Linked DNA regions of Homo sapiens: region 1 is linked to region 2. The links come from fine-mapping of genetic effects on gene expression. Tissue or cell type: whole blood. Region 2 holds a variant in brackets; the other region holds the start of a gene. All regions are shown on one strand. Distances are between the middles of the regions.

What was found. PIP is the estimated chance that this variant, and not a neighbour inherited with it, causes the effect.
Region 1: SEMA7A starts here. The variant in region 2 is fine-mapped to the expression of SEMA7A in whole blood (TOPMed, PIP 0.96).

What each region holds. Positions count from the first base shown.
Region 1 is chr15:74,430,412-74,438,512 of GRCh38, forward strand. SEMA7A (semaphorin 7A (JohnMiltonHagen blood group)) reads right to left here and starts at 3,547. Exons shown (of 14, transcript NM_003612.5): 1 at 3,330-3,547. The coding sequence starts at 3,507. RefSeq lists silencers at 2,710-2,829, 2,980-3,129, 3,180-3,689.
Region 2 is chr15:74,385,179-74,393,279 of GRCh38, forward strand. It overlaps LINC02255 (long intergenic non-protein coding RNA 2255), which reads left to right. Exons shown (of 4, transcript NR_146881.1): 3 at 5,341-5,903. Among named protein-coding and RNA genes, the nearest start is that of LINC02255, 10 kb to the left of the region's middle. RefSeq lists enhancers at 1-325, 1-40, 853-1,393, 1,394-1,934, 1,672-1,991 and 3 more and a cis regulatory region at 7,156-7,710. The variant C/G (reference allele first, on the strand shown) is at 4,495.

The sequences.
Region 1 (8,101 bases), 45 kb after region 2:
CCCTCTTTGGGCATTTGGGGAAACTGGGGTTCAGTAAAAGGCAAAGACTTGCCCAGTCACAGAGCAAATTAGGTCACAGCCTGAACCAGGCTCCCGACCTCCCAGCTCTCTCCCCTATACCATGGTCATCATTGGACCTGTGCCAGCGTCCATTCCACCGGACCTGCTCTCAGAATCTTCACTGTCCAGGACAGAGGGGTCACAGAGCTTGGTAGGAAGCTCCTGGTGACCTCACCAAGCATCTCTCTTGGCTTAGGAAACTCCCCCTCTCCTCCGGGGAATTGCCCCCCCACCATGAGACTCTGTGGAGGGAGTTCACCTTGAAGGTGATGAACACATCTAAGTCCCCAAGGGGGCAAGGATTTCCACTGGAAATGCTGATGCTTGGGAAGCCCCAGATGTGACCTCATCCCCTGGAGGAGGTAACAACAACCTCCTGCCCTGGGGAGCAGCCCCAGAATGGCTCCCCAGCAGCCACCAAGTCAACAATAACATCCCGTTGTTTCACTGGACAAAAGCGAGGGAGGGCAGAACCAGCCGGGCAGGTTGAGACTGGGGATATGGGTTCTGTTTCCCCATGGACAGGCTGGTTCACCTCTGACCTTGGGGTTCCAAGCCTTCTTTAGCTCCTCCAACCACTGATAAAATGGAAGAGGGGTGCACAGCTTACAAACGCATGCCAACCTCCTGCTAAGCCCCAGCCCTCACCTGCAATCTACTCCCTTACAGTTCCTGCTTACAGGAAGATCAGGACCACACATGCACATCCTTGACTGGCCCATGTGTCAGTGACAGCCCTTGGGGGACAATCCCTACAGCCTTTCTTGCTCTGGCAGGCTCTAAGGGTCAAAGACAAGTGTGGAGCTCAAGGACACCCAGCAGGTACATGATGGCCCATCTCTCTCCCTGGCCTGAGCTACGCTGTGCCAGACTTTCATCAAGCTGCAGAGGCAGCAATCTCCCTGATCAGTGCAGGCTGGGCCCCTCTCAGAGTTCCCTGCTTTAATCTTTCTCTAGAACTTGGGGATCCAAGCAGCAGAAAATAAAGAACTTTCCATACCTATTCCAGTCCCCACAGCTGTCCTGACTCAAAACTAAAACCCCCATCTATGCCTCATAGAGAAATGGCTCCAGAACCACCACCATCCCTGATTTTGTCATTCCTGGATACCACCATACTCCCACCCACCACTGGTAGACAGAGCTCTAGGCTTCCAGAAAGACCCCCTCTTACCCTGTTCCTGGGTTTGTCCTACCCAAGCCCATTCCTGTCCGATTGCCATGTGTCACCCCACAGGAGACAGGAGGCAGCTGTCAGTCGGGCACACCATCACCAGCTGGTGGCCCTGGGGGTGGGGGGCAGGTGAATGGCAGGGCCTGTCTGGCCAGTGGGGCACCTGGCACTGGTGAAGGAGACCACAGACTGTCGTTGGACAAGACTGGTGAACGGTTGGCAGACCCCAGCCAGCGGGGCTCAACAGTGCATTACTAAGCAGAGGGCACAGCCAGTGTGGCTACAGCAGTGAACTGCGGGCGGGGGGGTAGGCCATGGAGCTGTGCTGGGAGCTTCGAAAAGTGGGTAAGAGGACTGAAAGCAACTTTAAATAGCCTCAGGGTGGGAACTAAGTGCCCAGGATGGGATGTATGCATTAAGTGCTAAGAAGTGGGTGTGCATTAAGTGGGGTGGGGGTGGGGGGTCATGGGAAGACTTTGGGACAGGCAAACAGAGTCAAAATGCAAGGGGTTTGATGGAGGGAAAGATTCCAGAACACTCAGATGTGGCCATTTGTCCCCTCCAGAGTGCCCACACGCTATGATGTCCAAGACAGCCAAGGAGACTGAGGGAAGGCAAAGCTGCTGGGAGGGCAAAGGAAGCTTGGGCTGGAGCTGGGATGGCAGAGGGGTGTGCAGGCCTCCTCCATGTACAGGCGGCCGGAGCTCTAGCAGCACTGCTCGGCTTCCTCCAGGAGCACCTCAGGCTGGGTAGCCGAGCTGGTCCCCAGAGCACCTCATTCATGGTCCCTGAACCACCTAAATCCTTCTCCCCTCCCTAACCCAGAACCTGGACTGGTCCTGTGCCAGATCAGAGCCCCTGCCTGCACCTGGGCTCCCACACTGCTCAGTGACCTTGGGCAAGTCACATTCCCTCAGCTACTGCGGCAGTTCGGGCCACTCGTTTTGTGTATGGTTTTTTTTCCCCTCTGCTAATAATACCTGCCCCAGATAATGCTCAGACTCCCGCAATCCCTGCAAACTGCCAAAGGCATCAAAAGGCTCCCGGTGGGGCCAGACCCGACCAGTTCCCCCAGCCCCCACTGCGAGTCCCCCACCATCACGACAGGGGGGCCGCAGACACGCCAAATTTGGGGACAGAGCCGAATCGGACTGGGGGCGGGGAGGCATTTGTGTGCAATGCAGGGGAGGGGAGATCAGTTCCTCGCGGCAGAAAGCCTCAAACCCCCGCCTAACCGGCTTTCTGTCCCATAGTACAGGGTCTAAACTGAGGTGCCCTGGGGGAGACTCCAGTCCCCCAGGTTCTTATTATCTACCCTGGCCTAAAGGCTGCACCCCCGCCCTAGATCCACCGCCTGGGGGTCCCAACGGCCGTGCCCCACCCAACGGGCACTGCCCCCCAACGCTGGAGCCGATTTCTGGTGACAACTGCCACGTGCGGGCAAGGGGGGAGCGGCCGGTCCCGGCATTGCTGAGGCAGCGCCCTGGTACCCCAAGCCGCCGCACCGCACCATGTCCCGCCGCTCGCTGCAGGATGCCCACCCCCTTGCCTGGCCCGAGCTCCGGGCCGGGGCGGGGGCGGGGGCAGGCGGCGGGGTCTTTGTTCCCGCTGCCGAAGCGCGGCGGCGGCGGCAAGGGGTCCGCGCCCCCCTTGCCGGCCCAGCCTGCGCCCCGCGCGCCAGCAGAGCCCGCAGCTCAAAAGGAGGGTACCCGGGTTGGGGTCCCAGGCGGGGAAAGGTCCTCCGCCGAAGCCCCCGAGCCAGAGGACCCAGAGTGGCTCGGGGCCGAGAGAGGGGCCCGCCCCCTCCCCTGGCGCCCGGGCGTTGCGGCTCCTGGCTGCCAGGGACTTGGTGCGACTTAGCCGGGGCTCCGGCCCCCGCCGCTCGCTCGCCGCAGCGTTACAGCCGGCTCTGGTGTGCCAGCGTGTACACTCACACACACTCACCCAAACCCACACGCTCCACGCGGGGACAGCGCGGGGACAGCCCGGGACCCGCAGAGCTGCGCGCACGCACTCCCTCCGGGTGCAGCACACTCCGCACCCGCCCCGCGCAGCGTCTGATCCCGCGCCTGACCGGCCGCGCGGCGCCGCCTACCTTTCCAGACGGCGAAGATGCGGGGTCCGCTCCTTAGGTGGCCCTGGGCGGAGGCGGCGGCCGCCCAGAGCAGCAGCAGCAGCCGCAGCCGCAGCGGAAGCCCCAACCGAGCCGGCGGGCCAGGGACGCGGGCGCGCGGTGCGCTGGGGGCGGCACGTCCGGGCGGAGGAGGCGTCATCCCGTGGCCCCGGGAGCGACAGCGGCAATCAGCCGAGACTGAGCCAGCGCCCGGCCGCAGGCAGACCCAAGCGCCAGGAGGCGGAGCCAGCGCTGACCCCACCCCGCCCCTCCCCCCGCCCCTCGCAGCCTTTTCTCGCCTCACTGGCTTTCCTGAGCGAGAGCGGAACTGCTGGGGGAACCTTCGCCACCCTCTCCCGGGCAACTCTACGGGGAAAGCCCAGCTGCGGACAAGCCAGACTTGTGGTCTTCTGCCAGGGGCGGCAGGCCCTATCCCCTCTCTGGGCCTCAGTTCCACTCCCCGCACCCCGTAAAAAGATTGGCGTAGAAGTCGTGGAGGACCTCTCTCCAAGGGCGCAGAGGAGTCCAACACCCAACAACCTTGCTATGGCCAGCTAAGTGGTTCGCACCCTGAGGACTATGGTCCTCGGAGGATGCGTTCGCCTAAGTGGACACGGCTCCCTGCTGAGCCTACCAGCAGGCACAACGATGATATGTGGGGAGCACTCAGGGACCCGCTGTTGCTTTGCCTGGGAGAACACTGGAAATTTTTCATCTTGGCCTGGCTCCTTCCCCTCCCTCTCCTTTCTCCTCCCTTTCCCAGCCAGCAGCCTTCTGGGCTGCCTCCCCCCAAGCCAGCTGGTGTACGCTCAGAAAATCCAAACTCATTTCCATGTGAGTGGAGGGGGATATAATTAGGAAGGCCCCTTCCCCAAGTAGAGAGGGGAGCATCCCCCGTGCCCCACTCACTGTGGGGGAGGGAGGGTCAAAGCAGCTTAAGGGGATCTCTGCCCGCAAAGTGCCTAGGGCTCAGCTATCTCAGGCAACCTGACCATTCAGTGGGGACTCCCTTGGGGGGTCCAGGCCCAGACCCTCTGCAGTTACCTGAGCAGTCCAGCCAGCTCTGCCATCAGCTCCTCCTCTCAGAACTACGTGCCTGCCCTTTGTAAAAGGGTCTCCTCTCTCTAGACCAGACAGGGCCCAGACCTACCACTTCCACTTGTGCCCCAGGGAACCATGAATGGAAAATCCACCCAGCTCAGTAAGTACTTATCTAGTGTTTACTGGATGTCTAGCTGCACTGAGAGGAGACAGGCCGAGGAAGGAGTAGAGGTGAACATCCAACCTTCAGAACTCACAGACCTAGACACGATTCACGCACTGCAGACACCAGCAAAGGCGGTGGGCTGGCTGCCCTCTGCCCTCTGCCCTGCTCCATGGGGCCAGGACCATTTGGTTGTTGTTTTTACCTCCTGGAACCAGGAAAGTTTTGCTACCAAGAAGTTTGGCTTTACCATTCTACATTTTGCTTCCAGTTGTCCCCTCCTTCTTCCCTCAGAGTCCTGAGGCACCCCAGCAGGCCAGGAAGGTAAACTCAAGGTACCTCCAGAGACAGTGCAGAGTGAGGTTCCTGGCCCACTGGGTGAAGCCAACAGCCTCCTGATACACAGGGGCACACTGCCCCAGAGAGGGAGGCTGTGGACAGTCTAAGAGCTCCTCCTCAGGCCTGCACCTAAGCCTGTGGCCCTGAAGCCAGCAGTGGAGCCTGGCCCAGGCCAGCCTCTAAGATGGACATTCGGTTTCACCTGCTAGACAGGTATTGCCCTCAGTGTCTGTCCTCTCTATGCAAAGCTAGGGCAAACTAAGAAATCACCTGTCTCTGCCTTTTGGAACTAAGAATTCAAATGGATTCAAAATCAATGATAACACTGCCCATGTGCATGGCAACTCACAACACATAACCCACATTCACCTACCTCATCTCTGCCAGTCCTCCACTCTCTTCCTCTCACTGAGGGAGGGAGCGTAACTCCACTGCAGAGAAGAAAACTGAGGTACAGGGAGGGACAAGGACGGACCTGCCCGAGGTCAACCGGTAAATGGTAGAACGAAGATGGGTTTTCTGACTGCAATAACAATTGCTAACACTGTGGTTCCTATGTGCTGTGCCATCTCATAGCCTCTCCCAACTCATTCAATCTTCGCACTCCTATGAGATAGGAGCTATTAGTCACCTCCCTTTACAAATGAAGAAATCAAGGCACAGACAAGGGATGTGAAGTGCCAGGATCGCACAACTAGAGGCAGGACGGATTGAAACTCAGGTGGTTTCTCAAGGACCCACACCCTTGACTTCTCTCTGTGTGATGTACCCTGGCACTGCTGCCTCCTGTCTGTGGCTGAAGTCTGGGTCCAAACCATCCCCAGAAGGACCTAGATAGGGCCCAGGTCACCAGGTGCTGAGTAGGAGGGCAGACCAGGGAATGGGCTCAATCTCCCAATCAACAGAGTAGCAGATGGAAACTGGGGTAGATGCCAGATAATTTTTTTTCCAGACTGGGGGGTAGGGGGGAAGGAAGTAGTACTTAAGACCATCCTCCCCACAAGCCAGCCAACCTGGGGACAAAGGGCCAGGCGAGATGGCAGCCCACTCTCTCGGTTGGCTGCAGGCAGCCAGGGGAGGAGAGAACTAAGCCCATGACTTGAGGCAATAACTTTATAAAGGGAAAGGCAGCTAGACTGTGGGGCAGGCACTATGACCAGAGTTTAGGCATGGACTTTCCTGCCTCAGGCAGCATAGGAAAATCAAGTCAGAATGGTATAGGTGGTGTCAGAGGCCTGCCTGCCTCATTGGAGGCCAAGGCTGGCTCTTGAGCCTGGACCAAGAACAGGGGCACAATTCCCACTCACAGCCAGTGATGGGAAGTGGACCAGCAGAGGAAGCAACACATGTGGATGCTGACACGTCTGATGGGGAGGCACATTCTTGTCCCTCCCTTCTCCATGATTCCACATTCAGGGGAGGGAGGAAGAAATGATGCAGGGCTTCTATCGATAAGAAAAATACCTTGAGAAGGATCACTTCCTGAGCCCCATGGACAGCTGAGGCACAGCCCAATCCAAGAAGGCTCCTTTTGGAATGAAAGAAATGGATACACACAGACCTGAGATTCATGGTCTTGAAGCAGTGGCAGAAGCCCCGGGCAATCCCCCCAACATTCCAACTAAAGCCTCTCACCTTTCAGGGTCCAACTTAACTCATCCTTCCATTCTCCAGAGTTATCTGACCTCCTCCTCAGCCCTGATTCCATGGCTACACATGGCCTTCACAGGAGTGACCCACCTCAAACAAGAGGCCTGTGGGAGATAGAAGGATTCCGTGAGGAGATAACATATGCAGACGTGAGGTCACCCACACACAGTTCACTTCCTTTCACAGATACGATGATCCAAGAATCCCAATTCTTAGGATTAGAAGTAGCTCTCAGAGGGCATTCAATCCCCAACAGCCCCCTCCATGCTAGATCCCACCCCTTCTTTGAGGCCTCAGAGCTTGGTGGCCATTCAGACCTCCTGGCTACTAACAGCAGCAACAATTCCTATTGCCTACCACCATTACTACCTATTGCAGGGGGCAGAGACTTGGAACTGATGAGAACGAGGGGAGTGGGTGGGCTGGGGTCTGCAGAACCCTGTGCTGTCTATAAGGCAATTTCGACTCAGCTCCAGCCCATGGAACCATGAAGAAGTAAACCCAGTAGTGAAAGGTAGTATGATTTTCAAGAGAAGCTGAAAATTGAGGGCTGGGCACGGTGGCTCATGCCTGTAATCCCAGCACTTTGGGAGGCCAAGGCAGGTGGATCACCTGAGGTCAGGAGTTCAAGATCAGCCTGCACAATATGGTGAAACCCCATCTCTACTAAAAAATACAAAAATTAGCCGGGCATGGTAGCGAGCGCCTGTAATTCCAGCTACTTGGGAGGCTGAGGCAGGAAAATCACTTAAACCCAGGAGGCGGAGGTTGCAGTGAACCAAGATCGCACCACTGCACTCCAGCATGGGACACAAGAGTGAAACTCTGTCTCAAAAAAAAAAAAAAGAAAAGAAAAGAAAAAAGAGGCCAGGGGTGGTGGCTCACGGCTGTAATCCCAGAACTTTGGGAGACCGAGGTGGGTGGATCACAAGGTCAATGATTTCTGTCCTAATCATTCTACATGCATTTTTATCTGACAAGGTCAGGAGTTCGAGACCAGCCTGGCCAAAATGGTGAAACCCCATTTCTACTAAAAATGTAAACATTAGCCGGGCATGGTGGCACGCAACTGTAATCCCAGCTACTTGGGAGGCTGAGGCAGGAGAATCACTTGAACCTGGGAGGTGGAGGTTGCAGTGAGCTGAGATTGCGCCATTGCACTCCAGCCTGGGTGACAGGGCGAGACTCCATCAAAAAAAAGAAAAGAAAATTGACTCTTTGTTGAAACTCTCTCTTTTAAAATATTGGCAAATAATTCAAAAGTTAAGGAGGATGGATATGGGCAAATAAAAACAGGTCTGGGGCCCATATCTGGGACCCCCAACATACCATGTGCCCACTGTGACTATCTCACAGGCACAGGCACGACAGTCACTATACCTGGCCCAACTCTTGGCAGACCATGTCAGGCAAGGAGTGCCAAGAAGACACTTCTCAGGCTGCCCAGGCCATGCCTCACCCTCCCCTCAGTGCTCTGCCTGCCTCCAAACCTCAGCCAGGACATTCCCCTCAAGTGCCTGCCTCTTCCTCCTAGACCAGTTCAGAGATCACCACCTTCCAT
Region 2 (8,101 bases):
CATTTCTGCTTTTCAGAGTCTTCATCACCTTATTTGCTCCTGCAACATCAGGGTGGGCTGGGCACTGAAGTAGGTGGTGAGCTCATCTGAAAGGTGTGGTCCAGAGAGAGGAAGTGACTGGTCCTGAAACGCAATAAGCCCAGCCTTCCTGCCCGCCCTGCTCAGTGGTACTCCCAGAGAGGGTGCAGTGCCCCAGAAGTCCCCTTCCCAGGGCCTGGCTGGCAGCCTCCCACCTGGGCAGGCTCCTCGGGGCACTCAGACCAGCCGCTGCCTCCCTCGCCTGTTGTCCTCTTGACCCTCCCACCCCATCCCCCAAGCTGAGGTCAGCCTCCTGCCTTTCCTGGCCCCTGGCAGACCTTGCTTCTGTGCTAGCTCCAGCCCAAACCTGCATTCTCACAGCCTGTGGGCCTCAGGTGGCCTCAAGGCCTGGCATCCAGTTGTATTTTTTCCCCTGCAAATTCCTTAGCACATGCCAGGGGTAGCTCTGAGCAGGAAGGCACGGGCAGCCAGCTTTGCAGCCTGAGCTCCCCTCAACTTGGGACCTCAGTTCCCCATCAAAAGGGACAACAGCCTCATCCCAAGAGGGGCTGGAGTTAGATCCAGCCCCTAGTCCTGCAGCCCCATCTCCTACCCCTTCCCCCTCCCCCACAGAAGCTCCTCAGACATCTGGCAGCACCAGACAGGGCTGGATGGACGGAAACATGAGGTCAGATCCTCAATTGCTTCCTGAGCCCTTCCCAGAGGAGCAGGGCGCTTCCCAACTGGGAAACAGCTGAGCTGCTCCATAAAGGAAACCGGAGAGGCGGGGAGGGATGGAGACCATTGCTGGCAGAGGAAGCGACAGCGCCCCTATTTCTCAGATGGGCAACTGAGCCACAAGCCATAGGCCAGCATGCTGTGGCCACCACAAGCCCCCACCTCTTGTGAAAGTCTCTACTGAGCCCAAGGGCCTAGCATGAGCCAAGGAGGGGGTTGGGCTATGGCTAAAAGGATATCTGGGCCAGCTCCCAGGAGCCTTGACTCCCAGGACAGGGACCTGTAGGGATGGGTCCTTCACTCAGACTCATGCTGGGGAATTCTGCAGTCAGGAAGGCTTCCCGGAGAAGGGTGCTGTGGGGGGCTCAAGGGCAACAAGGAGGGAGGAAGGCATTGAGATGGGCTCAGCAGGTGCAAAGGGCAGAGCAGAGGAGGCGCTCAGAGATCCCCCTCAGGTAACCGACCTGGCCTGTCTCGCCTCCCGGCACCGGCTGGCTTGCAGAGGAAGATCTGGGCTCATTGTCCATTGTAAGCTGGGTATGTCCCAGTAGCTCAGGCTCCTGGACCCTGCTGGGCCAGCAGGGAGGGGCGTTGTAGCAGGAGGGAGACAGGCCAGGCCATCCTGATGAGGAGAGAGGAGAAGGAGGGGCCTCCCCAGGGTGGCAGGCACAAGCCTGTCCAGGGAAACCCACAGCTGCACAGGGGGCAAGTGGGTGCCTCTCCCTCTATCCATTATCTGGCAGGATGAGATGGGCACTCTCCTTGCCTAGGCCCAGACCTGGTCCCCACAGCCGGGACCCTCCCACCCGGCATTGTCCTCCCTAGGGAGCCATGCTGGTTGTGGGACTGCGGCCATGCCTGGCAGGGGATGGTGCCGATGCTGACACAGCAAGAACCAGGCCAGCCGTGAACAAAGAAACATGGGAAGGGGCCACGTCTGCAGGAGTCGTTCCTGAGGTGGCGGCCAGCACCGTGGACTGTAGGCTGAGGAGGCACAGGACGGCCTCTCCCTGAGTGTTCCAGCCAGCATGTTCCTGATCAGATACTCGGGGGCCAAAGCTGATCAAGGCCCTCGGGGCACAGCTCAGTCCAAAAATCCCCATCACCTCCCCCCAGGGCCCAACCCCCTTCACTCGTGACAGAAAAGGCCTCTGAATCACCTCTCAACCCTGACAGCAGGGTCCGCTCACCACCCCCACTTTTTTTGCCATGATCCCCCTCAGGGTGGGAGGCGAGACTGGACAGGAACAGGGGAGCCCAGAAGGGCCCATCCTGGGCCCAAAGGCAGACAGCACCCATACAGCAGGGGCTGCAGTGCCCTGATTGGCTTGTGGCAGGTGTTGTGGGGGAGGCACCCAGTAGCAGGGCAGCTGGCCAGGTGTGGGAGCCCTGACGTTGGGCCTGTCACACAGCATCAGGGAAGGAGCTGCTAGTACCGGTGGGGCGAGGGCTGGGAGCCTCGGGGAAGCGGTGGCTTTTCAGCTGAGAGAGCGAGAAACATTGGCTGAAGTGGAGTTGGTGCCCCACTTTCCAGGAGGGCTGCCCACTGCCCGCAGGGCCCCCGGTCAGGGCGGGAGGGCTCGGCACCGAGAGGTCCACCGAGCCAGACCAGGCAGAGAGAGCACATGGACCGGCGGAGACCAAGGTCCCAGAGAGGTGGGGAACAGGAGGCGCCCCCTCCCCTGCCACATGAGGAAAGTGGGCATGCTGGGCAGGAAGGGAGGGGATGGTGCCAGAGAAGAGTGCCAGCGTCCAGGGTGAGGGAATGCCAGCACCATAGACTGTGGGTGGGGCAAGGTAGGCAAGTCCAGTGTGGCTCCAGGGTACCTCAGATGCTGAGATGTAAGCAGGGTAGGGACATTTTATCCATAGCCAGGTTCTGGGAGTGCCCGGGGACAGCATTACCCTTAGATGCAAGCAAGAAGGAGCCCTGCCCTGGCACCTGCATTCTAGAGGATTCCACTCCAGCCTTCCACTGGCCTTGCCCCTCCAACAGGGAAATAAAGTCCATGAGCCAAGGAAATGTGTCCACCCGAGCCCCACATCCCCCCTCCAAATGCAGAACCCCAGAATTCCCTGCCCACAGGGCCCCAAATCTAACTCCACAGCCCACGTGGGCCTTTCCGCTGGGCCTGCCTTCCTGAGAACCGACCTGCAGCGGGTGTGCACACCCCAAGGCCTCGGGAGTGGCCAAGGGGCAGCCACTGCTACGTATATGGATGGGTCTGGGAAGGTCACACACTGCCCAAGGGGGAGCCCGGGATGGGAGCTGGGGTTGGCTCAGCCTCTGCCTGCCACATTCCAGTCCTGCATTCCAGGAGCCCAAGAATTCTAAGTACAAACCTGGTCCTCAGGGTGTTATGAAGGTGTATTTGCTAATGTAGGAGGATAGAGCATATCCTATTTAGAGGTTGTTGGCTTGATTTATAACTTTGAAATATCCAGACATATAGTATGTGGGCCTCCATTTTTACTCCTGCCCTGGGCCCAGGCAATGTTAGGGGTAGGATCAGAGGGCAAGCCCTGGCCCCTGCCCCACCCCTCAGGAGACCCCTGCTCTCCAGCCAGTGAGCGCTGCCGAAGGAGGGCTGGGCAGGAAGCCAGCAGCCGAGGGAGCCCATATGCACCTGTGGACCTAGCTTCAGGGCTGGTGGGACCTAGCAGGCTGGGTCCTTGGGGCTAGGAGCAGGGGAACCCGAGAGAGCGCTTCTCCCAGGGTTGAGCTTCTGCTTGAAGCTGGGAAAGCCACAGAGAGGCTGAGCTTGTGGCCCAGGGACACCCAGCCTGGATGCGGCTGCTGTGCCCTCCCCCTGGAGGTCCCTCCTGCTTCCAAGGCTCACCCACCTGTGCATCCAGCTCGGAGCTCAGGGTGCTTCGATCCCTTTTTTGAGTTCATTCCTGTGGCCAAGCCCTTCCCCCACGGTTTCCCATGCTGGCACCTCAGGAGGATCCTGCCCCTTGTTCCCTACCCAGCTTCAACCCCTTCCTCCGAGGCTCCAAGCCCCCTCACCCCCCTCACTGCAAATCACCTTTCTTCCATTGGAGCCAGGATCTTAGCTCAGGGAGCGACCCCAGCCCCAGTATACAAAGAGAAGCCTGCGGCCCACAGTCCCAGAGCGAGGCTGCAGCTGAGCCCAGGCTAGGACGGGTCTCCTGCCCCACCCCTTCAGCTCAGGGGGCATCACCCACCTCTTTGGAGCCTCACAGACCCCCCTGGTTCAAATTTCCACTAACACTCTCTGTGATCTCCCACAAGCTGCTTTATATTCTGAGCTCCTTCATTTATGAAATGAAGATAATAAATTTTGCCTTGTAAAGTCGTTAGAGGGATTAGATAAAATACACGCATAGGCCAGGCCCTATGCCAAGAACACCTTAGGGCTGAGACCTCCTTCCCTGCCTCACTCTGGCAATGGACATTACTGAGCAGCACCAGGATCCCGAGGCCCAGACAGATGTGCCTCTTGCCCTCCAGGAGCTTCCCTCATGCTGGGAAAACAGACACCAGCCAGGAACCCGCAGGAGGCTCCCAGAGACGGGGAGTGTCCAGGAGGGAGACGAAGCTGGAGGCAGGAGGGGAGGGCAAGGGGTTGAGAAGGCTGGTCAAGGAGGGCCTCTCTAAGAATATGCCCTGAGGACCTAAGGGAACCAGTTGTGCAGCATGTGGAAGAAGAATGTTCTAGAGAGGGGGAACTCAGGACGGTGCCTTGCAGGTTCTCAGAAACGCCTGGCGCTTAT[C/G]TGAGCACACACTCACGGACCCTGTTACCACACCACAGCGGGGCCTCTGTGTGGGGCTGATAAGGCCAGAAAAGATCTCAAGATATTTTCTTTCCTTTTCTGTGAGTGGCCTGAGATAGGCTGTGTGGGGACATTTGGCTCACGGCCTGCCTCACAGGCCCCCCCCGTCACCAGGGCACCATGGAGCACTCACTGCTGGACCTCCCAGTGGGGACTCGGGATTGGCCCCCGAGGGGGGCTGCCAGCCAGTGCTGGGGGCCCATGCGTGACGGGGCTGACCTGGCTCCCCTGTCGTGACCCACAGAGGCCTGCTCTCTGCTTGTGCAGTCTCTGCCTGCTCGAGTGTACAGCGTACAGGCTCTGGGCTCAGAGATGAGGGCTGGAAGCCAGCTATGTCACCTTCATTCCCTCACCTGTAAAATGGGGGTGCTGACAGTAACATCGTCCTCAGAGGGTTCCTGTAAAGGAGTGGGGGAGATGGTGCTAGAGCCTGGCTCATCCAAACGCCAGGCAAGGTGGCTCACGCCTGTAATCCCAGCACTTTAGGAGGCCAAGGTGGGCAGATTGCTTGAGGTCAGGAGTCCAAGACCAGCCTGGCCAACATGGCGAAACCCCCGTCTCTACTAAAAACACAAAAAATTAGCTGGATGTGGTGGCGTGCGCCTGTAATCCCAGCTACTCAGGAGGCTGAGGCAGGAGAACAGCTTAAACCCGGGAGGTGGAGTTTGCAGTGAGGCAAGATCGCGCTGCTGCACTCCAGTCTGGGTGACAGAGTGAGACTCCACCTCAAAAACAAAAACAAACAAACAAACAAAAGCTCAGTAGGTGCTACTTCCTTTCTTACAGGACCTGTGCCTCCTGGGATGACCCCCACCATCCACCCCTAGGCACCAGGACTGAGTCGGCTCTGAAAAGAAATGGGGAATGAAGCTTTGGGACTTGGTTCCTGCCTTCAGGGAGCCAATGGTCCAGCCAGGGGGATTAGGGTTCATGTCCCTTCCTGGGCCTCCAGGAGGTCATGACCTTCAAAGCAAGAATGAGGAAGCCCACGATGGTAGCGTGGGGCCCTGCATGAAGTGCCTGTGACGGGAGATGGAAGAACTCTGTCATATGTCCGTGAGAGTGAAAGGAACCTCAAGCATTCAAGGAAACCAAACCGGTACCCAAGATAGATGAAGAGATCAGGAATTTACCAGGTCACAGAGGCTTCTTGGCAGCCACCTGCAGGAGACGGATAACACCATGGCCAGGGCCCCCATGCTCCATACCGTGTCTGTGACCTCCACAGACTCACTCCACAATGTGACTTTGGGTAGGTCACAGTACCTGTACGGCCTCAGCTTCCCCACCTGTCAGATGGGAAGAACAACAGCGCCCTCCCCATGAAGCCATCATGAGCACCACACCAGGTAAATCATGACCTGCTCTCGTGCATGCAGGGATGTCAATGAAGACGAGTTCCTTTTCCCTGAAGTGATGAAAGGGACTTTTAGAAAAGAGGAAGTGGGTGGATTCTTAGGAAACCTTAGTTCCATCCCAGGCAAGTGGCTCTGATGATTCAGTAGGTGACTTCCAGGTGTTCCCAGGAGGCGCAAGCTACCAAAGTCATGTCCTCTCACCTGAATTTTCATCCAGCCCAACCCTGCCTCTGGACACCTATCCCCTCTTGGGACCTCGAGGCCAGGCCTGGAGAGGATGTGAACGCCTGGAGGCCCTCCCAAGCCCAAGCAGGAGGTAGACGCAGGGACAGTGGGCATCTTCCATCAGGCAGAGCTTGGCCAAGATTCCAGCAGCACCCAAAGCCTGCTGAGCAACTCACAGATGCCCATGCCTGGCAGGCTGGTCTCCATGGTCAGGCCCCAGCCTCTCTCTTCTGGGCCCCTCTCATCCTGCTCCCCAAAGTCCCACAGGCTTCCCTGCCTCCATGACTTTGCCAAGGCCACCCACCTGCCCCCGTACACTCCTGCTTCCACCTCTGTGCCTGCAGGCCTGCCCTACCTGGAGGCCTTCCCCTGTGTTCTATGGGTTTCTCACCACATGGTCTCATCAGTTATCTATCAAAGCGGCTGACGCTCCCTCCACTCCTGCCTCTGCCCCTCCTTGCCTCTGCCTGTGTTCCCCCTCCCATCACCACCTTAGCCTGTCTCCCCTCCTTCCTCAGGACTCAGGAGCCACTGAGGCTGTGGGGCACCTGCCGACATTCTGCCTGGCCTCCCTGGCTTCTCAGCCTTCCCCCACCGCCTACTGCTGCCTCTGGGCATCAAACCAGCTGCTTGAGTCTTTCCCATCCCACAGGACCCCTCTCTCAATAGCCCCACACCCCCACACCTCCAGCCTCTGCCCTCGGCTCTGGAAAGCACGGTCTCCACCCACTGCCTCCATTAACCCCCTCCTCCCCATCCCCTTAATTCCTGGGATCTAACCCCTGCCCCAACATCCCACCGAGGCCACTGATCACCTCTCTGCTGTTATGTCTGGGGCACTTCACTGCCACCCCTGCCTCCACTCCTCAACACCATTCCAAAGCACAGACCCTTTTTTCTTTCTCTTCTTAAAACATGTGCCCATACTCCTGGCTCCTGAAACGCCCACCCAGATTTCCTGTCACCTCCCTGCCCACTCCATCACTGTCCCCTTCAAGGTTCCACTTCCTCCTCCTGGGGCCACCCTCAAAGAAGCCCCACCCAGGGGTCTGTCCTTGGCCTTTCTCCCCTCCCTTGCCTCCACCCTGGGAGACAGACCTCTCCCACCCCTAGCCTGCCCCTCCTCCTGCATCCTCAAGCCCCCCACCCTCTGGCTATTGAGGTCCAGACCACCTCCAGGATGTCCCTTGAGATGCCCTCCCTTCTCTCTCCCTTGTCCTCAGCCCAGATGCTGAAAGGGGCACCAGCTTTCACCCCTCCTGATTTCATCCAGTCTCAAGCCGTTAGATGCTGTCTGTACTGTCCACACCCAAACAGACGCCTGACTGTCCTCCCTCCCCCAGCCAGGCCTCTCCTCAGCCGCCCACATGACACTCCACTTGGATGTATAACAAGCATCTCAGCCGTTCCAGCTCCCGCTCCCCACAGCACCCCAACCCGCTTCCCCCACCACCGCATTCTCCCCACCCCCGGCTGGCAGCTTTCTCCTTCCTGATGCTCAGACCAAAAGCCTTCGAGGCATCCCAGACCCCTCTCCCTCTCCCATCCACTGGCAAACCCTACTGCTCTAATCTCAAAGGAGACCCAGAGTCAGACTGCCGCCCCCACCCTGGGCCAGGCCCCCATCATTTCTCATCTGGATCATTGCAGGAGCTTCCTAATTGGTCTCCCTGCTCCCACCTTTTCACTCCTGCCCCCAGGTGTTCCCAGCACAGTGGCCAGAGCCGTCCTGTTCAGATATGTCACTGGATCGCACCTCTCCAGTTGACGCTTCCCAATGGCTCCTGTGTCGCTCTCAGGAAAAGCCGGGGAATTATTGCGTGCCCTGGCCTCCTTGCCTGCATCCTCTGCTCTCCTCCCTGCACCCTCCTCTCTCTGGCTGCACTGCAGAGGCCTCCCCTGGGGTATCAGTTGAGGCAGGCTGGGGTGTGCTGTGGTGACCATCCCTACTCACTGGGCCTTAA